4 linked regions of the Homo sapiens genome follow. The protein of the gene in region 1 interacts with the protein of each later gene in a pairwise test. Each region holds a gene or a part of one and is shown in the gene's direction. Other genes may lie near its edges.

Region 1 (7,123 bases):
GCTGGGATTATAGGTGTGGGCCACCGTGCCTGGCCCCCTTTTTTCCTTTCTTACTGTCTTCCTTTGTGGTTAAGTGATTTTCTCTGGTAGTACGTTTTAACTTGCTACTTTTTATTTTTATTGAATCTATTATAGGTTTTTGCATTGTGGTTACCTTGAGGCTTCTAAAAAAAATCTTATAACAAGTTATTTTAAAGCGATAACATCTTAGATCACAAAGAAAAAAATAGAAACAATGAATAAAAACTCCACACTTTATCTCCTTCCCTCCCACATTTTGACTTTTTGTTTCCTCAATTTACATATTTTTATTTTGCTTGTCTTTTAACAAGCTGCTATAGCTATTATTGTTTTAATTATGGGGTCTTACTGTGTTGCTCAGACTGGCCTCAAACTCCTAGGTTCAAGTGATCCTCCTGCCTCAGCCTCCCAAGTAGCTGAGACTACACCCAGCTCAATATTATTGTTTTTGATAGATTTGTCTTTGAGGCTTTATGGTAGAGTTAAGAATGAATTGCATACCACAATTACAGTATTGGAGTATCCTGGGTTTCTCTGTGCACCTAATTTTACCAATGGGTTTTATACCTTCAAATATTTTCTTTGGCCAGGAATGATGGCTCACACCTGTAATCCCAACACTTTAGGAGGCCAATGGGGGAAGACTGCTTGAGCTCAGGAATTCGAGACCAGCCTGGGCAACATGGCAAAACCCCATCTCTACCAGAAAGAAAATACAAAAATTAGCCAGGCATGGTGGTGTGCACCTGTAGTCCCAGCTACTCAGGAGGCTGAGGTGGGAGGATCACTGGAGCCTGGCAGTTTGAGGCTGCAGTAAGCTATGATTGGGCCACTGCACTCCATCCTGGGTGATAGAGCAAGATCGTGTCTCAAAAAAAATTTTTTTTCTTTTTGCATGGTTTTTTTTTTTTCCGGATTGAGGAACTCTCTGGAACTGTCTTTCTTCAAGAGAGCATTTCTTATAATACAGATCTGGTAGTGGTGAATTCTCTCTGCTTTTATTTGGGAAAAACTTTATCTCTTCTTCATATTTGAATAATAGCTTTGCTTGATACAGTATTCTTGTATGGCCTTCATGGTTTTGATTGAGAAGTCTGTGGCCAGGTAAATTAGAGCTCTTTTAAGTGTTATTTCCTTCTTTTCTCTTACTGTTTCTAGGATCCTCTCTTTGTTCTTGACCTTTGAGAGTTTGATTATTATATGCCTTGGGGTAATCAAATCTATTTGGTGTTCTCTGGCCTTTCTGTACCTGGATATTTGCAATTTTTGAATGTCTTCCATTGTTTCTTTGAATATCCTTTCTATCCCCTTGCTCCTCCTCAGCTCCCTCTTGAACACCAATAATTCTTAGATTTTGTCTTCTATATTTCGTAGGTGATTTCCATTCCTTTCATTCTTTTTTCTTTTTTCTTCTGTATGTATTTACAAACAGCCCGTCTCCAAGTTCACTGATTGTTTCCTCTGCTTGACCCACTCTGCTGTTGAGAACCTCTAATGAACTTTTCAGTTCAGCAAATGTATTTCTCAGTTCTAAGATTTGTTTGGGTTTTTTTTAAATTATTATTTCAATCTCTTTGTTAAATTTCACTGATAAATTTCTGCGTTGCTTTTCTATGTCGTCTTGGAATTCACTGAGTTTCCTTAAAAATGCCATTTTGAATTCTTAGAAAGCTCACATATTACTGTCTTGTTAGGTTTAGTCACTGGTCCCTTACTTGGTCCATTTGGGGAGCTCATGGTTCCCTGTTTGCTTTGGTTTGTTGTTAATGTACATCTATGCCTTTGCACTGAAGGATTAGTCACTTATTCCAGCCTTCTCCGTCTGGCTTGTTTTGGCTTTTACTGGCTCCATTTGCTTACAGATTCTTCGTAATTGACCTGTTGGTTTCTTTTTTTCTGCTAGGTTGCTGCCTCCTTTTTAGCACTCAGTGGCACCTTAAAACCAGGTTTGCCTTGGCTCTATTAAAGATCAGAGCGTCTCCCATCCCGAATGGGGGAGGTCCCAAAGGGGATATCCCAGTAGCATAGGAAAGCTGGCTAGGGGTTCATTCCCAGGGGAGCTATGGAAGAAACCTCCCACAGCATGGTGCTAACGAACAGCCACTCTGATTTGGCATCTCCTTTGGCCAAGTTATAGAGTAGAGAGAGTTTCCAGGGCTGGGGATGGTAGTCCCACCTCCCCACTTTGTCTGTGGCTATTCTCAGAGGATATTTCTCCCTTGAGGCACTCCTGATGGTTGTATTCTTGTGATTACAGCACTTTGGGAGGCCAAGGCAGGCGGATCACTTGAGCTCAAGAGTTTGAGACCAGCCTGGCCAACATGGTGAAACCCTGTCTTTACTAAAAATACAAAAATTAGCCAAGTGTAGTGGTGGGTGCCTGTAGTCCCAACTACTTGGGAGGCTGAGGCAGGAGAATCGCTTAAACCTGGGAGGCGGAGGTTGTAGTGAGCCAAGATCATGCCACTGCACTCTAGCCTATGTGACAGAGCAAGACTCCGTCTCAAAAAAAATACAGATCTTGTGTGAACTAACAGAATAAGAACTCACTTGTTACCGTGAGGACAGCACCAAGTCATTCATGAGGGATCCACCCCTATGACCCAAACACCTCCCACCAGGCCCCACCTCCAACATTGGTGATCACATTTTAACATGAGATTTGAGACTGAGTAACAAGTGTTAGGATTAAAGGCATGAGCCACCGCGCCCGGCCATCTTCTTTACCTCTCCACTGTGTCAGTTTTATTTTTCTCTTCTTCTCTAGACACTTTGTTCCTCAAGATAGGGGGCAGAGTGGGAAAATGACCATAGTCAGAATCTATGGGAAGGACCCACCCAAAAGGAAAAGGCTTCTTGTGCCCAGGCTGCAGATCCAAACCCCAGGGAAGGACTCTCATTGGTTCAGTCTCCATTCTGTTCCAGGTGGAGCATAATGATTGGTCCAGCCTGACTCGTTTGCCCATCTCTTAACCATCAACATGGTGGGGAGGGGACACGCAGGAGACTGTCAGCTCCTATCCTAAACGGGGGAGGGGGCAGGGGTGATCATTTTCTGAGCTCCTATAAACAAAGTTTCAGTTCTTTTTCCTCCTATGGCTGGAACACTGGAATAAGGAAAGAGGTCGTCTGTCTGGAGAGGCTGGTTGGGGAGTATGGTCTCCCCAGCCCAGCCAAGCTCAGGTCCCTGCATACAGCAGGCGCCTAATTGATGCTTATAGCACGAATGACTGAATGAATACCCCGTTCCCACAGGCTGTCCTGGGATGGTCCTAATTTCACAGACCCTGAGCGGATCAAGAATGAAGCGGGCCCAGGGGTCCCGCCCACCGGCTGAGTGCGTCTTAGGACGCAGAGACAAGACCACGGAGGGCGGAACCTCTGAGCGTTAGGTGGCACCTTGGAGACCCCGCCACCTCCAAAGGCCCAGTTAGGGGCGGAGCTTCTAAACCCTAGCATTTTGGATTGAACCATCGTCCGTCGGTTAAAGGGGAGAGCCGAGAAAGCCCTTCTGCATTTGTCGCCAGCCTTTTTACCACCTCCTGGCCACAGAAACGACGTATTTGCTTCTCTAACGGCGACGCCGTTTCCCCCTTCGCCTCGTTACTCCTCAAAGCCCCACGCGGCCACAGAGTTCAGACTTACCCACCACCACCTTGCAGTGGCTCGCCCCAGTTTGACGCATTGCAGGGAAGGTCGGACCAATGGGCGCCAAGCTCTCATTTCCGCCATGGGCCAGGCCCAATAGTGACGCGGCTCACAGAGGGACGCGTCACGCACCGCCGAGCTGTGCCCCTCCGCCGAAGAAAGTGAAGTGGGCCCGGGAGGCGGGGCGCGCGGCGAGGGAAAGTAGTCCGGCGACGGGAGCGAGCGCGCGCGCGCCCGGCGGCAAACCCAATTCCTGTGCAGGGTGGGGACGAGAGATTCGCGGGCCCGTAGGTGTGGAGCGGGGCGCGGAGGGATCCGTGGGAGCCGCAGTGCGGCGGCGCGCGGGCCGGGTGGGGCGGGGCCGAGCGAGGCGGGGCGCGCGCGGCGGCCGTTGAGGGACCGTTGGGGCGGGAGGCGGCGGCGGCGGCGGCGCGCGCTGCGGGCAGTGAGTGTGGAGGCGCGGACGCGCGGCGGAGCTGGAACTGCTGCAGCTGCTGCCGCCGCCGGAGGAACCTTGATCCCCGTGCTCCGGACACCCCGGGCCTCGCCATGGTGAGTGAGGCTGGGGGGTCGCCGAGGCTGCGGGCTCTGAGGCGGGCTTAACGGGGCAGGACCCCTGAGGGGGCGACAGAGCCCAGAGTGGGGGGCGTCCGGGCCCGGCGAGAGCCTCGGGACCCTTTTCTACCCGCGTTGTCGGGGGCTGTTGAACCCAGAGCGGGACGTCTGGATCACCAGAGGTTTCCAGAAGCGACTTTAGCACCAAATGGGATGTTTAAGTCCACAAATGGGTATCTGAGCCCCTAAAGGGGACATTTGAACCCCGGATGGAGGATCGGGACCCTCAGTGGGACCCCTCAAAAGGATTTTGGACCCAGGATGGGGCGTTGGGTTTCAGGATGGAGGTGTTTGGACCCCAGGGGACGAAATAAGAAAGATGGGCTGGGGAGGGGAGCTATTCGGGCCCTGATGAAGGCGTTTGGTCCTGAGAGGATGCGGGGAACGGGGGACGAAGGGAGGCTGGGCTGCTCCTGGATGGGGTGGTGGAGGGTAGCTGGGCCCGGGCGGGGAGGGGCGACCCCTGGGCTCCTGTGGAGCAGAGGAGAGGGTCAAGGATGGGCGGTCACTTCTACAGATGAGACTCCCGAGGGTGGGGGAGGGTGGGGGAGGGTGGTCTCCAGAGCCCAGCACTGCAGAGGAGGAGGAGGGTGAGGTGCAAGCTTATGGGAGGAAGAGCCTGGGGTGGGTGGCAGCGGAGATTAGAAGATACTCTTGAAGGCTTCCGGGACGGAGAAGGATCAGGGTCGTGGAGGTGGTGAAAAGGGATGGTGAGAGTGGGGCTCGCCAGTAGTCGGGGGACAGGGACCCTTGGGGTTAATTTGGAAGTAGCTAGAAAAGGTTCCGAGGTTACTAGTGGGTTAAGACTGTTGCTCTAGAAAGACAGAATTTTTTTAACGGGGTGGGAGTGTTGTGTTTGGGTCCAAGAGAAGATGGATTTCCAAGGTGAGGGGTGGGGGAGGACTTGGGCTTGGGTGGTTGGGAGGTGAGGTGGAAGGAGAAAATGAATGGCAGTCAGGGGGGCCTAGGTTTGGGGGTGGATGTGGGTAGCACCCTGCCAGTCTCCAGGGACAGGCCAGGACAAAGACGGCTCAGTGTGGATGGGGAGTGGGCTGCAGGGCCCGGAGGAAGCTTTTCTACCGTCCTCCTTCCTCAGGAAGAACGCGGCTGGGTGGAAGACACCGGGGCAGTGGGAGCAGGTGGGCGGAGCTGTTCGGGCCCCTATTGCGCACTGAAGCCTCATGAAATGGGGATGGGAGATCAAAGTTTGGGGTGCCTCGAATGAGCCAGCTTTTTCAAGCCTAGAAGCCTCACTCTGTCGCTGCCCTTTTCAGGCCAAGAGCACTGCCTTTTCCCAGCAGGAGCGCCGGTTTTCTCATGATCCCCAGCCCCACGCACCATGCTGCACCTCGTCACTTGTGCCAAATGACAGTGCAGTACAGTGTGGCGTCAGTGACAATCAGATGCCTATTCCCGTGCCCTCGGGGTGGGGGCTGCAGAGCTTGATCAGAGAGTGCCTCTGGGGAGACCCCTTGATCGGCCTGAGGGCCACTTGTTCCATTCAGGGCCCTCGCTGAGCGTGTCTGTTAATTCACAGGGCTTTGAGAGAAAACCAGCAGACTAGTTCTTTCCTACTCCCTGCCACCCACAACACCCACAGCCCCACCAGGCTGAGCCTGGGAACCGTGTGCAGCCATCCTCCCTGGCAAGGCTGGGGAGAACAGGCAGCCGCTGCTGTGTATCAGATCTCATACTTGCTGACACAGACCTGATGGCTCCTCTTGCCGCTACCCCATTTTCCCCCAGCAGAACCTGGCTAAAAGGGGCCCTGAAGCACTAGCAGGCCCCCTACCTCCAGAATAGGACCCAAGCTTTGGCCACAACTAGTTTCTCTTTCTGTTTGTAATCAGCAAGGTAGAGGTGGGACAAGTCACTGGTAACTGGCCTTGGACTTTGGCCTGAGCTCTGTGGCTCCTCCTTGGCCCGGGTGAGGGGCCCTGGCCTTGGTTTCTGATCTCATCTAACACTGCTCTCTGGCATTGGCTGGGGGCTGGGGCAAGGCAGAGAAATCACACCCTCTTCCCTCCCCCACCTCATGGTTTTTTTTCTTGTCCAGCCCCTTGCTGGAGCCTAAGATGAGGGATAAGGAAGCAGGAGACCAGCTGAGTTATTTTGGAAACAGTTTTTGTTGAAAGTTTAGTCTTCAGGTCTAGAAAGGGAAGAAACCTTGAGCAAGGATCAATGATATCTTCTTAGGCGGTCGGTTTTCTGGGCGGCAACCTTGCTTGAGATCTGTACCTTTCCTTGACCAAGCAGGGAAGTGGGTCTCCAACATGGGAGGGAGAGCATCTGACAGGCCCTCCATGCAGAGCCACGCCTATTTGCAGCAACCCTGTGACAGAACTGAACATGGCAGTGCCTCATCTGCATCTTCCAGTCTTTTGGTGGAGACTGGCAAACGGTGGCCTTCAGAGCCGCTCGGGGCAGTCTGCAGCCTGTCACAGCCTCCTCGCCCCCACCCCCAGCCCCTTACAGTGCTGCCCAAAGGTCCGGGGAGCTGGACTTCTTGCAGGGCGGAACAGTGGGCTGGGAAGGCCCTGACCTGGCTCGCTTTTTCCATTCTAGGCCAGGGGAAAGAATGAAAAGCAGATGGGATGGCAGCCACCTCCCCACACTGCTGCCCTCCTCTCTGTTCTTTCCCTGACCCTCCCTGGGCATTGCCTGGTCTCGGTAACCAGAAGCCCATCCTCCCTTCTCACTTTCCCTAAGCCTCTTCCTCAGGTGTCAGGACCTAAGGGATGGCTCCAGGCTTTTTTGTCCATGGTGGGAGGTGGGGGGCAGGTGGATCAAGAGGCTCATGGGCCTGGGGCTACCAGGTTGGCATTTAGAAGCCCAACCA
Region 2 (6,598 bases), on another chromosome or scaffold:
CCCTAAAATAAAACTTAAAAGTTCTTTTCATATCCCAAAACAACATATGAGGTCTGGCACCCAGTTTTCTTCCCAATCTCATCTTCTACTACTTTTCCCTTCATTTCATTCACAATGTTTTAACCACAGTAACCTTCTTTCAGTACTTTAAACAATCCAAACTCGTTTAAGCGTCAAGTCCTTATACTTGTTTCCTTTGTTTAGAATACTGTTCACCCAAATATTCTCATAGCTTGCTCCCAGACTTCATGTCTCTGCTGAAATAGAGGCTCCTTAGAGAGACCTTCCCTAACCCTAACCCTAACCCTATACTACTTGCCATCACTCTTTATCCTCTTACCCTGGATTATTTTTTCTTGATAGCTCTTCCTACCATCTGGCACTATATTACATCATATCATATTAAACACACATTCTTTGTGCTTCCCCACTAAACAAGGACCATGCAAGATGGAACATTGCCATTTTGTTCACTGCTGTTAGCCTCTGTGCCTAGGACAATGCCAGTTATGCAGTAGTTACTCAATACTTGTTGAATGAATGGTGAATAGAACATAGAAATTTGCCTATGCGTGCTTTTGAAAACCATATTTTAATATTACGCTTTGTTAAAAATGTGTATCTTTATAAATCCTCATATTTCCATGGCAAACCTTATCTTCTAACTTTTCATTGTCCTCAAAGATTAAGATTCTTAAACATGTTCCTGAAGGTGCTGAGACAGAGCAAGGCCTTAAACGGGAGCTTCAAGTTCTTAGGTACATCATGTATTCATATGACTACTTTGTTTTTTTCTTTAAAAAAAAAATTATTAGTTTTTATATACTCCGAATTGCTACAACTAGAGACAAGCATTTTTCGACTTTACTGCCTAACAGGCTTATTAGGTCCTTATTTCTTCCCTCTAATGCTAATCACTCTTTTTCATAATACACACTAGAAAAAAAGGATAAACCCAACTCTAAGTTTCCAGTTTGTAATTTAGTTTAAACTTTTCTAAGAGCATAGAATGAGTTAAACCTTAGCTTCCCAGAGGAAAATACTAATGAAAGAGAACAAGTAATTTTTTTACTTTCAGGGGTCTCTGTAGCCTGCTTTCATTAAGCTCCTCTTATAACGAAACCACACTTGCAAATGCCATCAGGTCAGATATTAAGAAAAACGTGAAGGCTTTTGTATTCCAGGCTTTTTGTTTGAGAATGGTGACATTGTAGCATTGAGAGTAAATGTTTACTTCGATAAAGGCTAGCTTGTTCTGATTACTGTACATCACTAGTTCATAAGAAATGCCCATATATTTTATGAAGCAATATCTGCTTTATTTTTTTAACACATTATCATTGTGTTCTAGATTAGCTAATCATCAGCTGGATAAAGAGAAAGCAGAATTAATCCATCAGATAGAAGCTAACAAGGACCAAAGTGGAGCTGAAAGCACCATACCTGGTAATGTATTTTAAAAAACATGTTAGCTACCCCCAAGTTTTTGAATTTGGGTTTGCCTTTTTTTTTTTTTTTTGGCTCAGATTTCTGATCATTGTCTCCCTGTAAAATCGAATTCCTGATAAGCTTTGGGTCTTTTGTCTCTCTGTGCTATTAATATAAAAATATTCCCATTTTTCTCTTTGTGTTGTTTATACTATAGAGTAGCAAGTACCCAAGTGTTCTTCTCTTTGTTCTCCATCTGGGTGTTACAGATTTAATCACAATACAGTGCTAAGCAATGAATACTAAATCTGTTGCTTCCAGTTTCTAAGTATAGGCTCTTTCAAGTCCTCTGAACATTTTTAAAAACTGCAAATAAGTAAATACTGCCTATATTTTTTTCCGTTTACAAAGTAAAAAGAAAATCTTTCTGCTCCCTTCCATTCCCATTCAAAAGTGATTACTAATCATTCCTCATTCCTGCATATACATACACACATATTTTGTATACATATATATCACACATATGCATACATGTGTTTGTATGTTCATATGTACAATGTACATATCCTCATTATTTGTGGATTCTGTATTTTCTAAATCACCTCCTCACTAAAGTGTGTATGTAATCCCAAATCAACACTCGCAGCACATTTGCAAACATCCACAGAGCCTTGGAAAGTTTGAATAATCCAACCTACATGTCCCCAGCAGAAGTCCAACAAGGCAGTGCTCAGTATCCTCATTTCAGTTTTCATAGAGAAATGAGCAGAGGATGGAGACAGTAGAGGGCAGCACAGCATAGTGCAAGAAGCTGTGGCTCTGGGGCCTGGTGGAAGGGATTTGAATCCCAATTCTGAGGCTTGTTACTGCTCTAGCCTTAGGAGAGTCATGTAACACTTCTGAATCTTGTTTTCTTATGTAAATAAATAGAATTTACCAGGATGAGTTATCTTTAGGATTTAAGATTATCATCTGTGTGAGATATGTAGGTGTATGTATATATATGCGTGTATGTATATATATGCGTGTATGTATATATATGCATGTCTGTACATATTTCCCGTAGCAGCAGTGGTTTGATATTCACTAATTGGGCTAACTTTATAGACCAAAACTACTATGGATAGAGAATACTTTGTTTGCATTTACGTATATATATTTTCTTGGCAAGTAACATAAAATTGAACTAATACTATACACATTTCTAGCATATTTGCCTTTAACAGTTTATCATGGACATCTTTTGAGGTCTGTTCATAAATTATCTCATCCATTTAATAATTCCATAGTGTATTATTGCATGTATAAGCACATCGAACCATTTATGTTTTGATGGATATTTAGTTTGCTTCCAAGTTTCTGCTTCTATAAAATATGATTAATCTATTGACCTAATTATGCCATTGTGATAGGATGATAGAGATGCCATTCTCTCCAAAGGATTATACCAATTTATATCTGAACTATCTTTGACTATCTCTTGTAGCTTTTTCAGTATGCTATGTAGTCCTATTACTAATTTGTAATAAAAGCCATCATGTGTGAGTTGTACTAGACACTATGCTAATTGCCTTACAAGCATTCTATATTTACAACCATATATGATAGGTATTACTGTCTCCATTTTATGTGATAAACAAATTCAAAGTGGTTAAGTAACCATTCCCTAAGCCAGCTAGGAAATAGAGGCAGGATTAAAATCTAAATGTATGAAACTCCACAGCTCCTTGGCATTCCTAGTCCTTAACCCGCTATGCTATGCTACGTCTTGGTAACTAAAAGTACATATTAAATACTCTCAAAATATGTCTCATAGCAGCCAGCTTGGTATGTACACTAGACACAGTATTAATGCTGTTGATGTGAGGAAAATTTTATAATTTTCCTTCCATCCATATACTAACCAGGCCCAACAGTGCTTAGCTTCTGAGATCAGAGATCAGGTGCATGTGCATTAAGGGTCATATGGCCATAGATAGTTCTCTAATCTTTCCATTCCTCAGTTTCTTAAGGGAATTTCTGAACCCTCAAAATTCCTTATTTCCTAAGTAGACAGATTACCTGTCATTTTTCAAAGATTAAGGCTTAAGATCAAACCAGAACTGTTTTGGAAATTCTAAATCACTGTCTATATAAATGGCAAGATAACTTTTAAGATATTTATACCAAGCCCAGTACAGTAGCACACCACACCTGTAATCCCAGCACTTTGGGAGGCTGAAGTGGGTGGATCACATGAGGTCAGGAGTTCGAGACCACTCTGGCCAACATGGTGAAACCCTGTCTCTACTAAAAATATAAAAATTAGCCAGGCATGGTGGCACTTGCCTGTTATCCCAGCTACAAGGGAGGCTAAGGCAGGAGAATCGCTTTAACCTGGGAGGCAGTGGTTGTTGCAGTGAGCCAAGATTGCACCACTGCACTCTAGCCTGGGCGACAGAGTGAGACTGTCTCAAAAAAAAAAAAAAAAAAAAAGATACTTGTCCCAGCCATGAAAATGTTTGCTGCCCCTTACTTTCGCAAACTTTTAGTATTTTATTATTTTTCAATGGCTGTAAAATATGACTTATTAAATGTAGTATAATATAAAGAAAAGAGATATCTAGCAAAGATAGCATTAAAGCAAAAATCCTATTTGCCTGCTGATAAAGTTAGAGGTGTTAACTTGGAGGGTGAATCCAATAAATTAGAACTTTTGTGCTATATTTGGAGACTTTTGTTTTCCTACCAAAGTATCAGGGCTATGTCTTACTTATCTTTGTATTACACAGCCTGCATGACACGTTTTGCACATAGTAATTGCACAGTAAATGTGTAATAACCTACATGGAATAGCCAGTGTTGTGTTGGATAGCGGGAGCATTTGGCTAGCTTATGGTTATAGTCCCTTACCCAACAGTCTGCTTTTCTTCTGTTGTACTTTTAGTACCTAACAAGTTTCCCTGGCTTTAGGATTTTTTCCATGTAAAATTTCTATCATGTGAAGAAAAAATAACTTGGCCTACACTTCTAATACCTAGCACATACCTCTTTCTGCCTGCTATGAAATTATAATACTTGATGGAGGGAGGCAGCATTAAGTGTTTACATCCTGAAGTATTTCAGCCATAACATCCAGTGTTTTCCAGGTTCTAGGTTTCATAAAATGTATCTCTGTTCTCTAGAACAAATCCATTACCTTGAACTCATTCGTAGTGGGAAAAAGCTGAGTCTAATTTGTATGACTTTTTCAACAGATGCTGATCAACTAAAGGAAAAAATAAAAGATCTAGAGACACAGCTCAAAATGTCAGATCTAGAAAAGCAGCATTTGAAGGTAATATTTAATTATATTTTAGTATCGTTTTGTGAAAACAGCTGTTGAAAACTATTTTCATTACCATCTTTAACTACGTATCCTAAAAAATTCAGTAATAACATCTTATATTTGACCTTTATATTGCAAAGTTAATTATGTTCATCTGACTATTCCTAACATATTAGAGTTAACAAAAAATTCAGACTCAACATAGGATTAAGTAGTAAATTTATTTTTTAATTGTAACAAATATATGCCATTAGTATGTTCTTAAGTTTTGGGTCACATTGGCAACAGTGTCTTTATTTTTTTTTTGAAATTCTTTTCAGGAATCCTAAGGTTATAGTTCCCTTAAAAAAATATTTGCTGTTTTACCTCTTTTAAGACTGTAAACAGGACAAAAAGGCATGGATATGAGAATTAGCTAGTGATCACTGGCTATTCTAAATAGTCACTAAGGCTTGAATTGTCTCTTCACCAGATGCCTGTCAGAAGTCCCAAAGGTTTCCCTGATCATATTAATAACTTTATAAAAAATTGATCATTATTCATTAAATATTAGATATTAGTAAGGAAAATATAAATGAAGTCTAAACCAAAACTCTTAACCAGACTAACTTCAATGTTATGAATCACAAAATCTTTTTGATTGATTGCTCTATTGACAAGCTCTTATATGCTTTTAGAGAAAGATTAAGTCCCATTATAAGAGATGATAAATTTTAGTCAAAGACTAGAACACAACTTACAGAATACATAACTGGACTTGACAGTTAACAACTTAGTTATTTACACTGTACAATGGAACAAAGAAAAATCTTAATTCTTCTGCCTTTATTGCTGTATTTGACCATTCAGGAATACTTTGGCTTTCATATTTACAATTAAATCTCCTTGTTCAAACGTAAAATATGTATATTTCCTATATGCAACTTTTAAAGATAATGTTTCCATTAGGAGGAAATAAAGAAGCTGAAAAAAGAACTGGAAAATTTTGATCCTTCATTTTTTGAAGAAATTGAAGATCTTAAGTATAATTACAAGGAAGAAGTGAAGAAGAATATTCTCTTAGAAGAGAAGGTAAAAAAACTTTCAGAACAATTGGGAGTTGAATTAACTAGCCCTGTTGCTGCTTCTGAAGAGTTTGAAGATGAAGAAGAAAGTCCTGTTAATTTCCCCATTTACTAAAGGTCACCTATAAACTTTGTTTCATTTAACTATTTATTAACTTTATAAGTTAAATATACTTGGAAATAAGCAGTTCTCCGAACTGTAGTATTTCCTTCTCACTACCTTGTACCTTTATACTTAGATTGGAATTCTTAATAAATAAAATTATATGAAATTTTCAACTTATTATAAAAGTATATACTTGAAGACTTGTTACAGCCATCAAATAGGCAGTGAGCTCTGGTGAATTTCTCTACATTCATAATGCTTTAAGTTTTTTAAAGAATATGAGGGTAAATTCAGCAATTTTAAGATTTAAAATTGGAGTTTATATATACTTATTTATACATGTGTTAAGATTCTCAAATCCTATGATATATACACAGATGTAGACATACACACATATAGGTTATGAGGTTGAGCCGTATGTTTTGTTAAATATCTAGCAAAATTAAATTGAGCTTAAACTATTTAATTTTGAAAATTAGTGACATTAAATTGTTGTCTTTAAATTACCACTCAGTTATAGTGAAGAGAATCCAGCCTTTGTCCAAGCTTAGGAGCTTACTATTACTTATGTTTTTATGGCTAGAGATTAAAATTAATTTGCTGGTTTTTAATAAAATTTTGAATAGGTACTTGAAACTGGAAAATTCATTTCTTCACAAATGGTAGAAAACATATTGATGTTTCATAATGAAC
Region 3 (7,025 bases), on another chromosome or scaffold:
GCTGCAGTGAGCCATGATCATGCCACTGCACTCCAGCCTGGATGAGAGAGTGAGACCCTGTCTGAAAAAATAAAAAAAAAAAATACCTGGACAGGACTAATCACAGGGCAGGAGTATGATGGTTGCTGCAAGGTGCTCTGGGAACAATCATATATTCATTCAACAAATGTTGATGAGTGCCTTCTGAGTGCCCAGGGCCTGGGGATTCAGCAAGGAAGGAGTCTACTCTGTCCTCCAGGGATTTAGAGCAGAGCAGGTGGTCATAACGCAGGATGACATGTGTTGTGGGAGGCTTAAGGAGAAGTCCCCAACCCAGGCCCAGGCAGGGAGCATGGTACAGGAAGCTCTCCTGGAAAGGAGGTGGCGTTGGAACTACTGAGCTTCATCTGGAAGGATGAATAGGCCAAGGGGGCGGGATTGGGAATGATATTTCTGGCCAAGGGTGCAGAATGTGCAGTGGCTTGGAGGCAGGAAGCAAGGCGTGCAGCCTGGGGCCTGGGCTGGGGATGATAGTGAGCCTTAAGAGGTAAACACAGACCGGTCACCAGCAGTCTGGGAATGTCAGGCTAAGGAGAGAGCATTTTCTCCTGAAGTGGATGGTGATTCAGAGAAGAGTGTGAGGCAGCAGAGGGCTGGAAGCAGATGTTTTCATTTCAGAGAGATGTCTTTGGCAGCGCCAAGTAGGGTGGATGGGAAGAGCAGGCCTAGAAGCAGGAAGACCAGTGAGGAGGCTGGGGAGAAACCTGAGAACTAAGGCTGTGAGCTCTGAACTTAGGCTGCAGAGAGGATAGAGTTGAGAAATATGAATGTGAATAGGAGGTGGAGTCCATCAACCTTGCTGGTCGATTGGACCTTTGCCAGGTATCTGGTGTGTGTTAGAATTACACGCATAATCTCAATGAATTCAACTGTAATCTAGTAGTGTAGTCATTGTTGTCCCCATTTTGCAGATGAGGAAACAGACTAGAAGAGATTAAGTATTTGTTCACTGCCATTCAGCCAGCAAGCATAAGAACCCAGGCCTATTGACCCACAAAGCCCTCTCTGCTACTCGACGCTTTTGCCCAAGAGAGGGGGCCTTGTCTGGCTCACAGTTGGCCTCCCCAGCAGCTCCCAGCCTCAAGTTGTGCGTCCTTTCTGGGCCTTGCCGTTTCCACTTACTCAACAGACAACATGAAGGATCAGATTTAGACAACAGGAGGGACTTCCTGAGAGGCAGTGGTAGGGAATGGAATTTCCTTTCCTGCAGATGAACTCCTCTTTTTTCAGAGAAAGGAGGGTGATGAGGACATGTAATCACCAGCTCTCTGTGAACTTTGGCTGTCATTTCTCTTGGTGGTTAAGCCCTGTGTGACCCATCTTGGCTGGAACATGGGGAAGTCCTGTGGCTTTGGCCAGGGCTGCTCATGGGGCCGCTGGGAGTGGTAGCATCAAGTCTGGCCCACTGTCTCTGATCCCTGATTCCAGGCCGGCCTCTGGGCTTCAGACTTCTCCACTGCTCTCTTCCTTCCAAGTTTGGGCCTCCTTGCCTGAGGCTGACGCCTCCCGTTGGCATGGGTCCAGAGGTCCTGAGTTGTGGGCTTGCCACTTCCAGGGCTTCTGACACTTTGGGTTGGTGGCAGTAGAACAGCAGGCTGGGAGTCAGCACACCCCAAGTGAGGTCCTGGCCTCTACACAGCCATGCTCCGCTACTGCCAGAGTGCCCGCGCCTACCATCTGGCTGAGGCCTGCATGGCTGGGAGCAGCTTGGTGAGGGAGCCAGGGCAGTCTGTTATAGGCTGGACGTAGTGGGGCTTCTGCATAGAAGGGTCTGGATCCTGGGGTAAGAATCAAGGTGCGAGGCAGGGCTTTGGAAATGTGGATGAATGACATCGCATAGGGAGGAGGTATAGAGTATGAAGAGAGGATGATTAGGGACAGCCAGGGCCTTGGAGAGCACCAGTGCCTGGGTATGGAGAGAAGAGGGAGGAAACTGACGGAAGGCCATATTCTTGGAGCCAAAGAAGCAGGGACAGACCCACAGAGGATGAGCTGGAGCGAGACCCCTCAGATTCAGCCAGAAGGCATTAGCTGGTGGCATGGGTTTTGGTGGAGTGGTGAGGGCAAAACTAGGCTACAGCGGGCAGAGAGGAGTGGGAGGGGACCCTGCTTTTCTACATGCCTGGAGCAAGGCTTGAGCCTCTTGGAGGAAGGGCGTGAGGCCCTGGGCTGGGAGCAAGCAGTATGGCGGCAGGCAGTGAAGACTGGGTATGGGAACCTAGGGGTTTTATCTCATCCACCCCCTCCCTCTGCCTTATGTCCAGAGGCAGAAGACCACTGCCCTGTGCTCTCCTTTCAGGCTCAGGCTGAGGGGTTGTGAAGTGTGAGCTGGTCCTGGGGAAGACATGTAATGTGCTGGCTCCAGAAAGGAGGGGCTTCTGACTCAGGTGGGGGACTTGGAGGAAGGCTTCTTTGAAGAGGTGACCCCGGAGCTGGGTGCTGGAGTATGAGAAAGACTTAGGCAGGAGTAAGGTGTTCTAGACAGAAGAAAGAGCCTAGGCCAAGGTGCAGATACTGGCTGCAGGTGTGGGAGTGTGAGGGGTGAGGCTGTGGAGGAAGGGACAGCCTTGGCCAGCAGGTCTTGGATGCTGGAGGGGGTGGTTTCAAGGTACTTTCTTATTCATTCATACCTCAGGCTGAGTGAGCTCCCCATTTGGTAAGCAGCTTGTGGTTCAGGGCTATTTCTGTTTCTCAGTTGATGCTTCCTTACCCACGCTGGGTCTGCTTCCCCAGGAGATGCCTGGCAGAGGTTTGCTGAACTGGACTGAAAATTTTTTTCCCTTCTTGCCTCTGCTATCGGTCCAGGGACTCCCTAAGTGCTGAAATTAGGCCTTTCCCATTAGTGAATCGTAAGACTGAAAGCGATATTTCCCACATTAGGCAAGTTCTCAAAAGAGAGGGGTGGGGTCCTGACTCCTCCATCAGACTGGGAAGTCCTGAGGGACAGGGTTATACCACTCCTATTAGCATGGGGCGCCTGAGCGGGAGGCCTGGGGCTCCCTCATCTGATTGGCTTTTGCAGGTGGGAGCCATGTCTCCCTCCTCAGACTGGAGGCTTCTGAAGGAAGGATGTCTCCTCCATCACACCGGGGGCTCCTGAGGTTGGGGCCTTGTCTCCCATGTGAGCCCTGGGATTAGAACAGGTATCGTCTCAGATGGTCCCTGGGCACCCTGTGTTCTTCCCTCCTATGTGGACAGGATGGTTCCTGTCCCAGGGGTGGCTTGAGTCCTAGTAGGGGGTTGGAGAACAGAGGGGGTTGGCAGGACAGGGTGGCTGCTTTTGAGAGGGTAACAAAGGACTCTGTTGTCCCAGCCCCCTCCCGCCTTCCCTAAGGGGCCCTGGCAGGGTCATCTCTCGGGAGACGCGCCTCCTCCTTCCTGGGACTGGCCCCATCTTTAGCCCCACTTCAGAAGAACTGCTTGTTCCTTCCCAGGAGACCTGGTGCCAGATGAAGCCCCTGGGAGTTGGACAAGACAGGTCCCCAGAATTGTGTGTGACTAAGGTCACCGCAGGAACTGAACAGCTTTTCCTCTGCCTGGGGCTGGGCGGCACCTGGCTGAGGCCACAGTTGAGCTTCTGCCTCCCTGCACCTGGAGAGGGATCTGCTGGTCTAAAGGGCCTTCAGCACTGGAAGCACTGTGACTGATGTCGAGTCAGCGGGAGGCAGGATGCAATGTCTGAACCATTCAGTGGTTCAACAGCCCGTGTATGGGCCTGGATGAGGCAGGAGGTCCCTTTCATGCTGGCCCTGGGCCTGTAGCCCACAACCAACTCACTTGGTCCTTGTGCGGCCACACCCTTCCCTCAGCCTTGCAGGGAGGCTTGTCGAACTGGACTGAACTCTTTCTTCCTTTCTTCCCCCATCACACTGGGGGCTCCTGAAGTTGGGGCCTTGTCTCCCACATGAGCCCTGGGATTAGAATAGGTATCATCTCAGATGGTTCCTGGGCACCTTCTCTTCTGCCTTCCCGTGTGCAGGATGCGTCCATCCTAGGGGTGGTTTGAGTCCTAGTAGGGGGTTGGAGAACAGAGGGTTGGACAGAGGGTGAGCAAACCTCTGCTAGGTTTGTTCCCTCTTCACCCTTGCCCCTGCCTTGTGCAAAGGGCATGGACAGGTTTTGGCATAGGGCCAGGGGAGGGGTGGGGAGTAGACTGCTGTGGCTCACCATCTCAGAATGGTCCCAGAGGCATGCTCTACTGCTTACTTATTGCTGTGTGACCTTGGGCATGACATGCACCCTCTCTGGGTCCTAGTTTCCCTGTGAAGTCAAATCAGGTGAGAGGCCCTTTTGCTAGCAGGTCCAGGAGTGACCTTTCTTCTGGGCGGCCAAAGTCTCAGGCCTCTGCTACAGGCCAGTGGGACTGAGACCACCAGGGAGTGTGTCCTGGGTGGGGATGGGTGTTGGGTGCTGGCGGCCAGGAAGGAATTGGCTACTGCTCGAAAGGGTAGTGCTGTCTCCCATGGTATCAGGTCCTTGAACAGCAGTCATGTTCACCTCCAGGGACATAAAGCATCTGTAGCAGGTCCAGGGCAGTGGCTCATGCCTGTAATCACAGCACTTTGGGAGGCCGAGGCGGGTGGATCACTTGAGGTCAGGAGTTCGAGACCATCCTGGCTAACACGGTGAAACCTTGTCTCTACTAAAAATATGAAAAATTAGCTGGGCGTGGTGGCGGGCGCCTGTAGTCCCAGCTACTCCGGAGGCTGAGGCAGGAGAATAGCATGAACCCGGGAGGCGGAGCTTGCAGTGAGCCGAGATCACGCCACTGCACTCCAGCCTGGGCGACAGAGGGACAGAGCAAGACTCTGTCTTAAAAAAAAAAAAATACTCAGGTCAGGAACACTTCCTCCAGGAAGCCTTCTCTGCTGCTCTGGGGCCTCCTCTGGGCACCTGCAGGCCCTTCGGTGATCTGATTAGCATGGATTATTAGCAGATTAGCATAGCGGTTAGGCTCTTGGAAGAACCAGATTTCCTGGTTTCCAGTCCCAGCTCTGACACTTACCAGCTGGGTGGCTTCCCTGATTACTTAACCCTTTCTCTGCTGTGGCTCCCTTATCTGTAAAATAGGGTAGTAGGTTGTCATGAGGACTGAGTTAAAATTAAGTAAGATAAAGCAAAGAAAGTCCCTGTGCAAGGTCAGTTTTATGCGGTTCTTATCGCTTATATGACGTCTCACCGGCCCTGCCTCCCTAACCCAGCTGTGAGCTCCCCCAGGGAAGGACCCTGTTTGATTCATTTTTTTGAGCCTCCCAAGGCCTCATTACAAGCCTGTATTATTGCTGGCTTTCAGTACCTGATTGCTGACTTGACCACATACAACAGCTGTCCCATCCTTCAAGGCCTGGATCACATACACCTCTTCCTCTGGGAAGCCCTCACTGGATTCCCAGCGCTTTGTGACCTTCTTGTAATCTCTCTCTCTCAGCACTCATCCCTCCCTCCCTGCATAGGTCCTGGTTATTTGCACACTCGTGATGATGTCATCTTGTGAGGTCAAGAACTTTTCAAGAGCACCCTGGATCTGCTTGTCCCCAGCACCTGCGCAGACCTGGCATGCCGCTGAGCTCCATAAATATTTGTTCAGCCAAGGCATTTCGCTGGGAGGAGATACTCTAGGGGGTGGGCAGTGTGGTTGGTGAGGACCATAGGACATCATTGCTGATTTCAAAATATCTCAAAGTAGCCCAGAGCCATAGGAATTAGATTATTCTTTGTGACCTAAAGGGCAGAGGTCACTGGATGTTCAGCTTTACCTTGCTTGAAGACTGTATTTTCTGACAACCAGAGCTCTCTGGGAAGGGGATTGGCGGCTCATTCCCGCCTCAGGGCCTTTGTTCCTGCTGCGCCTCTCTGTCTACTTGGTCCAATCCTACTTCCTAAATAGGTGCCCCGGCCACGGAGCCATTCTCTCCCGGCCTCTGGAGGGCGCGCTCCATTCTTCATCCTCATCCTCAGTCATGTACTGAGCCTTTCCCGGGTGTGGGCAGTGGCATGGGAGAGTAGGGAGTCCCTCCTTAGGATGGACATCTGGGTCTGGCTGCAGTCCCTCCAGTGTGGTTTGACCCGGCCTGAGGAGGGGACCATGGTTTCCGATGACCCACCGGTGATCAAGGAGCTCTTTATTCAGCTGGACAGCCTCCCTTGGCTGGCAGAGCACAGAGCTCCCCATCGGCTCCCCACTGGGCAAGTACTCAGAACCCACCTAATTACTGGGGACAGAATTCTGGGCACTGCATCCAGCAGGCTGCGGTCATAATCAGCTAATTAAACCACCCAAGCATTGCTCCTTGGCCCAGAGCAGAGGGAAGGGGGGTGAGGTGGTGAGGCTGGGAGGAGATGTAACAGGGGAGGCTCAGAAATGGGTCTGCAGAGCAGGGCTCGGAGAGGGAAGCAGGAAGTGCAGAGGGAAGGTGAGAAAGAGGGAGAGAAGTGGGCAGATGCCCAAAGGTGCCATCTGAGGAGAGCACCCAAGTGGGGTGAATGGAGGGAAGGGGCTCTGGCCTGGGAGACAGGGATCTCACTTCTTCACTGTCCCTGTGCTGCCATAGGCAAGCTGCTTTTCCTCATTGGGCCTCAGTTTCTCTATGTGTCAAGCAGGAAGTAGGAGAGGCTTTGGCCTAGAGGCTCCTCCCTAGGACCCTTTCCTTCTCTCGTTAGGAGGGGAGAGGGCGTGAGCAGCAGTGTGATTCTGGCGGGACAGCTTGGCCTCTGGCAGCCCTGCCTTCTGGAAGTGGCAGACAGTGTAGGAGTCTGAGCCAGCCTAGACTGGGTGGGAAGGGAAGACAGTTGGGAGCAGCAGTCTGCCCACCTGGCTCCCCAAGCATGTCCTGCCCTTGAGCCTTGGTCCTGTCTTTGGGACTGTCCTGTGGTTCCCAAACTAGTCCTCAGCGAGGGACTCTTTAAGGCCGAGGGCTCCCTCCCCAGGGCTGGGCAGTGTCATTTCCATCTGTGTAGGAATTGCCCAAGTAGCACCCTCAGAGAGT
Region 4 (7,436 bases), on another chromosome or scaffold:
GAGACCAGCCTGGGAAACATAGGGAGACCCTGTCTCTACAAGAAAAAAAAAAAATTAGCTAGGTATGGTGGCCTGCCCCTATAGCTACTTAGGAGGCTGAGGTGGGAGGATCACTTGAGATCAGGAAGTTGAGCCTGCAGTGAGCCATGATTTTGCTACTGCAGTCCAGCCTAGGCAACAGATCAAGACCCTGTCTCAAAAAAAAAAAAAAAAAATCTTAAGCGAAGAGGTCAAGTTGAACTATAGATTATTTAAAAAGAAAGGAAGATTTAGAGGGCACATTGGAGACAGGAAAGCAGTTGAAAGAAATGACGAAGAACATACACATTCATTAAATATTTGTTGAATTTCTTGAGGGCAGGTGCCAATCATAACCATCTTTTAATCCTTAGAACCTATCCCTGTCTGCTATATACTAGACACGATGCAAATGTTTGTCATAATAAAATGAGACTGTTGTAAATGACTTTTAATTATTTCCCACTGAGGGAAGGGTGTGATGAAAGATCCTTTTCTCTTTTGTTTAGAGGAAATGAGAAAGAAGAATAGCTTAGGGCACTTGGAAGGATATAATTCAATTCTACAAACATTTCACACTATCTATTGGGTTAACCATGGGTGAGTGTAGACCCACATCAGTGCATTCTTTTCCCCAGTCAATTAGATTCAGGGACTAGTATTTCCTTTGAAGCAGATTCTGTCCATTCTCCCAACACTAGGGAAATACATCTATAGCAGGGAATCTTTTTTTTTTTCAATGGATATAGTCTGCCCAACATTCTTCCTATAAGATTATTCAAATAGAAGTTTTGTTAACAGAAATCACATATAATAAGTCAGTCAGTCATTGGGCTATAGAAGCTGAAATTTCTCATGCTGCAAATTCCTCCACTTTTAGATATTTAGATATTTCACTCCTGGTGGCTGAGTAGTGAAGTCGCCTCTATGTTCAATTTCTCCTCCGCTTAAGTTGCTAATGACGATGCATCCATGGCCTGCCCCTTCCAGCTCGCAGACCTAGGACTCACAGGCAACTTTCCTATGTTAGAGAGGTTCCTGGCTTTCTAAAATCTGTCACCCACACCATGTGGTCTTAATGGAAGGAAAAATGAAGTTCCTGTCTTTATATGATAACATTTGCCCCTTCTGATGTGTGGCATTGTCATCCTCTTCATTTGATAGACTTGTTGTTGTTGTTGGGAGAGATTTTTCTGTCATCTCCTGGACTCTTTTCCCAGCCAATCTGCAGATCACCATCTCCATATTCTCCCTATAGCATTATGCCTTCATCACTATCTATTACTTTTGTGAACTCACTAATTACAGTGTAGCTTAATAGCATTTATAAGAACAAAAATTGTTATAGTGTGTCTTTGTTTCAAGGAGCTCACAATCTACGGTGTGATACAGACATAAACACATCTTATAGCTAAGGGGTAAACAAAATGCTGAGGGATACAGGAGGAAAGAAGCCTAGAAATAGTAGACTCACATTTTAGAATTTATTTCAGACTCTGTATCTGAACTCTGTATCCCTGCAGAAAATGGGCTACATTTTCTGCATGGAAGGATAGAGGCAGTTGAATTGGAACTCTGGTCACAGTTATTTAAAGTTGTCCCTTTAAATGAAGGAGTGGCTTTGTCTGTTATGCAAAAATATAAGCGTTCTCAATTGGTTTGCCATGGTACATTGGTATATTGTGAATCCTTTAGAAATCTGTTACCAAGTTTTGACAAATCTGTAAGATTAAAGTTTACTCTAACTGAGATTCCCATATTACAGAGGTAGATCTCAGACAGAACTTTAAGTTGAGCAGGTGCTGGAACTGAATGTCAAGGAGGGAACAAAAGGTGGCAAGTAAAAGGTAAGAAGCACAGTATCCCGTCAACTAGCACCAAGAAAGAGGGAGTGTTTACTGGAATATTGAGAATGTGGCTGTGGACAGGGCAGAACATGATTTTATTCCTGCAGTCAGATGTGTTGTGAGTGAACCAAGGGAATGGGGGAAAAACTGGATGTACCTCCACAGACACCATGAGACACTCACATTGTGATGAAAGACTGCTGACTTTTTAGCAATTTAATTCTTAAATATTTATTTTATTTAAAAATCCATGAACACCTCCAGCTTTTTTTTTTTTTTTTATGGCAAAACAGTTCATTGTAGCTGTTCACGTAGTAATTATCTTCCTCTTGCATCCCCAGGTAATGACTGTGATCTTGACCTAAAAGCCACCTTAGTTAGTTTGAATAAGGAAGACCTTGAAAGGAAAGGTAACTGACCAGAAACACTCTTAAGAAGCACACAATGAAGAAATGATCATTTCTAAGCAAGTACTTAAAGTGCCATAACACAGTATAACAGTGCTTTTATAAGCATCCAGTCTTATTTAAGCAAAAAGACGTAAAATAATGTGATCGTGTTATGGCACACAATCTGGAGGTTTAAAACTTTAAAAAAAAGAACCACTTTGTAGTAGCACTATTTTGTTTTAGGTCTTTTAATTTCTTCAAGTGTGCCACCAAAAATTGTAGTATTCAAAAAGGTGCCAATACACACACACATACACACACACACAGAGTCCATGTTGAGATCCATTTCAGTAGTACATTTAAAATGGAAGACATCTTATTTCTTTTTCTCATCAGGTTGCCCACCAAGGCTTTAACATCTCTGATCTCAAACTAATATCATCTGTTTCCTTTTTTATCTAAGCCACAGAACATGAGAGCTCATTAAAACCTTAGAAATTTTATTAACTCTCTATGATAGTTTTCCCCTCCACATTATTTTCTTTATCTTCCTTTCACAAGCAGGATTATGAGGTTTCTTGATGGGTTTTTAATATTGTCATGAAAAATCTTCCCTTGGCATGTTTGTGCGATAACACAACTTTAAAAACCTTATTTAAATGAACTTATTCAAATGAAGTGGATAGGCACCAAACTGGCTCAGCTCAGCACCAAATACATTTCAGAATCAAGTTCTCTTCAACCAGTGTTATCTCATTTGTAATAGAACAAAGAACCACTAGACGGAGCTAGGGTTTAAGAAATCACTGTTCTAGACTAGGTAACAGGCGATGGGTAGAAGGCTATCTTAAGGAAAAAGTGTATCATTACTTGCATTTCAAATCCTATGACAGTCTTATCCAACTCTCTGCTAACAGCAATCTGTTTACTTTGTCTCTACACAAGACGAGATAAAGGGTGATATTCGTAATGGCCCAATTTATTTAGTCACTCCAATAATGACGTCTGACCTTGGCACAGCACTTTACAATTTAAGGTGCTGTCCCCATACATAATTCTTGCTTGATCTTCACAGCAACTCTGAGAGATTTCTGGGCAAGAATTAGTTCTTCTGTTTTTGAAATTAATTAACTGAGACAGGATGTCTTTGCAATACATTAGGATATGTCAGGATGGCTAACCCAGACAATTAATTTTCAGGGTTAGTTTTTTTTTCTCTTACATTTTTGTGTTGACTGTTGACTCAGTCTGAAACTAGTAAACTCTCCATTCATTTCTCCTGTGGGACATAGGCTTAGTCTCCCACCGCACCGACTGGGGATACATAGTAAAAAGGCAGGTACAGACTATGTGTGGGTCGAAATCCCCCAAAATAAGTGAACAAACGACCGTTGTCTTAGCCCCTGTCCAGAAACCTTGGGTGTATGTGGTTCTTCCGTATACCAGGGGTCAGCTGTAAAAACTAACTGTATCCTCTGCACTACAGACTACCCTTCAAGCCAAAGCCACGGTTGCTTAATTAATGCTGCCCCTCTCCTGAGCATTCGCCCTTAGAGACAAGTCCACCCCTTTGATGTTTGTCAGGCAGTTTGATACTGATCATACCAAACATCAGGAGCCTGCATTTGTGTCTACGGTAAAAACAACCCAAGACAACTCTTCTGAAGCTGAATCTGCCAGTCACTCTAAATCTGCACTATTGCAATACGACTTCATTAATTACTGCTCAAACACTGGCCTAGAATCAAGGTGGGGCAACTTTCACTAGTCAGGCTAACCTTACAGGAAGGCAAGAAGGTGTTCCCAGAGCCTCACAGGTCCCGGGGGCCCCGGCCTGAAACAGAGCAAAGGAAGAGAGTTACATCAGCACGCTCCCCTAAGACTTGTTGGGGGTGAATCCGCCCTGAAAGCTGCTCACAATGCCCTCCTCTCCACCCAGCCCATGGCACATCCTGAACACATTTCCCGGCTGAACCCAGAGGGTGGCGCTGCCGTCCCAGCCTTGGTCCACGGCCGCCCGCCACTTCCCTGCCTCTGCGGGAGCCCCCCAGCTTGGTCTCCCGCAGGCCGGCGGTGGGGCACGAGCCCGGTAGGGGGCGCCGCCGGCCCAGGCGCCGCTGCTCCCTCCGCCCACCCGGAGGCGGCTGCCGCTAGCCGAGGCCGGCGCGAGTGCACTGCGAGGCGGGCCGCAGGGAGGGAGGCGCGAAGAGGGCGCGAGGGTAGCAGCCAGAGGGAGCCGCCAGCCCTGCCTGCGGATCCCCGCCGGGCGCATGGGGCGCTTCGAGCCGGGACTGCGTGCGGGCCCCGAGGCCAGTTTCCTGCTGTCGTAAGAAGCCGCGCCAGGACGCCCGCCGGACCCCGAGCTGCTGGGAGGATGACCATGGCTGGGGGCAGGAGGGGACTAGTGGCCCCTCAAAACACGTTTCTGGAGAATATTGTTCGGCGGTCCAATGGTAAGAGGTGCATTCGGATTTCGATTACCCGGGCGTTTTATCCGTGCCTTTATTGCAGAACCTCTCGCCGCTCGGAGCCAGCAGATGCAGCAGAACCCGCGAGCTCTGCTAAGGAGCCGCGGCGCGGGCACCCAGGGCAGCCTCCCCGAGGCAGAGAAAGGTGGGCAGGGCGGGGCGGGGTCTGATGGGTCCCCATCCTAACAGGAGAGCTCTTCTGGGGACGCCTTTTGGGCCTTTCTAGCGCCCTCTCGGTCTTATCTCCAAGGATGCGTGACAGCTGCTGAGCAAAGTACTGGGAAAAGTGATGGAAAGCTGGCTGCAGCCGGAGCGGCAGCGCGCGCCCCATCGGCACTGCCCACCCTTCCGCGAAGGCTCTGGGGCTCCCGGGCTGCTCCCAGAGGCGCCGCCTCTCCCCAGGGAGAGCCAGCAGTAGAGACGGGCAACTCCAGGTCCCCGCTGCCTCAGAATGGGAGGATCCGGCTGCCTCCACCTTCCATCCCTGCAACTGAAAAGTCCGAGGTGTCGGGACGTGCTCTCGGCGGCCTGATTCCACCCCTTCACCCACCCACCACTTTCTAGGTGAAGTTAAGGCTCACCTTCGAAGTGAGGGGCAGATGGTTTTCCTGGCGTCAGGTGGGAAGTGGAGGGCACAGGTGCAGAGCGAACTAAATGGTCACAGGTACAAACCTGTTATATTTCCCCTCTTCCAAACCCACAACGGTTTTATGCCACCCTTAAGTGTTGCTCACCTATAAATTCCCAATCTCACCAAACCTATAAATAGATCCATTACCCAATAAACTGACAATCAGCACTCATCTGTTTCCTTGTGGCATTAAGATCGACGGTAGCATGAAGCCTTGAGAGGCGAGAGTCCTAGGAGCGGGGATGGAAAGGAAGAATTCCAAACGCCTTTCGGACTTAACAGAGGAGAGACCCCAACTAAGCACTTGCAGAGCGACTAGGAGTCCTGGCAGTTGGAAGGCGCAGCGCACGAGTTCATCAAATGGCTATATTGAAAGATAGCCAAGCATAAGATGCTCTTTGCAGACTCCTAGAGCCCCCACCCCACCCCTTCCAGAAACAGATGACATTCTTCTACCAGGGAGACATGAGGAGCTAACTTAGGAAATGGGTTTTAATAATGTGTAAATATCACGATTTCAGAGTCTAAGGAGCTTCTGTGTAAAATGATGAGCTTCTGTTTGGATTTAGTTAGGGATTCAGGGGAAGGGCATGAAAAGTGACTTATGCTACTAATAAACACTCTTTAATTAAACAGTGATTTAAGTTTATCTTATAATGAAACACATCAACTAGCATAGCAAATAATCACGTATTATTTAAGTACTTTCTTAGAAATGATCATTTCTTTATTGTGTGCCTCTTAAGAGTGTTTCTGGTCAGTCACCTTTCCTTTCAAGGTCTTCCTTATTCAAACTAAGGTGGCTTTTAGGTCAAGGTCACAGTCATTACCTGGGGATGCAAGGGGATGATAATTGCTATGTGAACAGCCACAATGAACTGTTTTGCCATAAAAAAGCTGGAGTTGTTCATTTATTTTTAAATAAAATAAGAGTTACTGTGCTATTATTGCTATTTTTATTGGACTATTAAGGGGTATGGAGACAATCTTGCAAATTTGGTTATCCCATTGTCAGTGACACCAACTTTCTCATAAATATCAATGACAATTCTATTTTTCAGTAAAGAGGCAGTGCCCTGTAAGTTAGAGGGGAAACCCAGTACCTAATGTATACTGTGTATGTTTTTGAGTGGAGGGAGCAGGAAGAGAAACTTACATGTAAAAGTCACAAGATGCCTTGGGTTTTAAGGGAACCTTAAGAATCTTGGAGCTGTGAAGGCAGAATACTGTCTATTTTAGTTGATCTTATTAGAGCCACTTTCCCTCTGTAATCATAGAATGTGAATAGAATAAGTCACTGGGAATATTTTTAGGATGGGCATTGTCATTTCAACACCAGTTTCAGCAGGTTGATTTCAATTAACCAATCAAATGAATAGCATCAAAAAAAATGAAGCATCTTGGGAGAGTTGGATGAATTTTTAAAATTATTATTTCAGAATAAATGGTTCTCATCTTGAAATATGGGACTCAATGTTTAAAAGGTGATCCCTTTTATAATATTTCCTGAACACAAATGGAAGAAAAAATGTGAACTCCTAGAAATATCACAATATCTGCATGCATTATATTATTTTACTGTGGTGGAAAAAGTCTATTTAAAGATATTGATTGTCTCATTCTAAAATCCATGAGCCCTTTTTTGGACATTACGGTATTAAAATAGCATTTTACCTTTGAATAGCAATATTTTATGATCATTTTATTAGATATTTTCTCCCAGTGGTCCTGTGCAGTATTAATGTTCCTCTTTTACAGATCAGAAAACTGAGTCCTAGGAATATTAAGTGGCTTATTCAAAGTGGCAGAGCAAACAATGCCTGAGGCTGGTATTCCTTAGAGGACATCTATCATATATCCTTCTCTCAGCATTATAATTTCTCCAGCTTTTATGACTTAGTCTGTGGAACTATTTTTATCATCCTTTAAAAACTTCTCATATGATAATGAATAATAGTACTGACTTCATTTTGGGTTATTTGAATATCTGATGCCCGGAATATCATAGAGCTGTGGGAAGAGACAGACCTTAAATATTATCTAGTCTGCCTCTCCTTCCCCATCATTGTATAAATAAGGAAAT

The links.
Region 2: the proteins of CALM3 (region 1) and CEP290 interact in binary tests that used the Homo sapiens proteins (3 or more experiments, as listed by UniProt).
Region 3: the proteins of CALM3 (region 1) and ARRB1 interact in binary tests that used the Homo sapiens proteins (3 or more experiments, as listed by UniProt).
Region 4: the proteins of CALM3 (region 1) and KCNH1 interact in binary tests that used the Homo sapiens proteins (3 or more experiments, as listed by UniProt).

What each region holds. Positions count from the first base shown.
Region 1 is NC_000019.10:46,597,217-46,604,339, forward strand, and holds the start of CALM3 (calmodulin-3), read left to right. Parts: upstream 1-4,113; 5' UTR 4,114-4,218; coding exon 4,219-4,221; intron 4,222-4,852; exon of another isoform or gene 4,853-4,991; coding exon of another isoform or gene 4,992-4,994; intron 4,995-5,380; exon of another isoform or gene 5,381-5,423; intron 5,424-7,123. UniProt on the Homo sapiens protein: Calmodulin acts as part of a calcium signal transduction pathway by mediating the control of a large number of enzymes, ion channels, aquaporins and other proteins through calcium-binding. Calcium-binding is required for the activation of calmodulin.
Region 2 is NC_000012.12:88,048,500-88,055,097, reverse strand, and holds the end of CEP290 (centrosomal protein of 290 kDa), read left to right. Parts: exon of another isoform or gene 1-597; intron 598-684; coding exon 685-758; intron 759-1,351; coding exon 1,352-1,446; intron 1,447-4,664; coding exon 4,665-4,744; intron 4,745-4,937; exon of another isoform or gene 4,938-5,683; coding exon 5,684-5,914; 3' UTR 5,915-6,082; downstream 6,083-6,598. UniProt on the Homo sapiens protein: Involved in early and late steps in cilia formation. Its association with CCP110 is required for inhibition of primary cilia formation by CCP110.
Region 3 is NC_000011.10:75,341,655-75,348,679, reverse strand, and holds part of ARRB1 (beta-arrestin-1), read left to right. Parts: intron 1-7,025. UniProt on the Homo sapiens protein: Functions in regulating agonist-mediated G-protein coupled receptor (GPCR) signaling by mediating both receptor desensitization and resensitization processes.
Region 4 is NC_000001.11:211,131,138-211,138,573, reverse strand, and holds the start of KCNH1 (voltage-gated delayed rectifier potassium channel KCNH1), read left to right. Parts: upstream 1-4,425; 5' UTR 4,426-4,628; coding exon 4,629-4,707; intron 4,708-5,199; exon of another isoform or gene 5,200-5,386; intron 5,387-5,547; exon of another isoform or gene 5,548-6,295; intron 6,296-7,436. UniProt on the Homo sapiens protein: Pore-forming (alpha) subunit of a voltage-gated delayed rectifier potassium channel that mediates outward-rectifying potassium currents which, on depolarization, reaches a steady-state level and do not inactivate.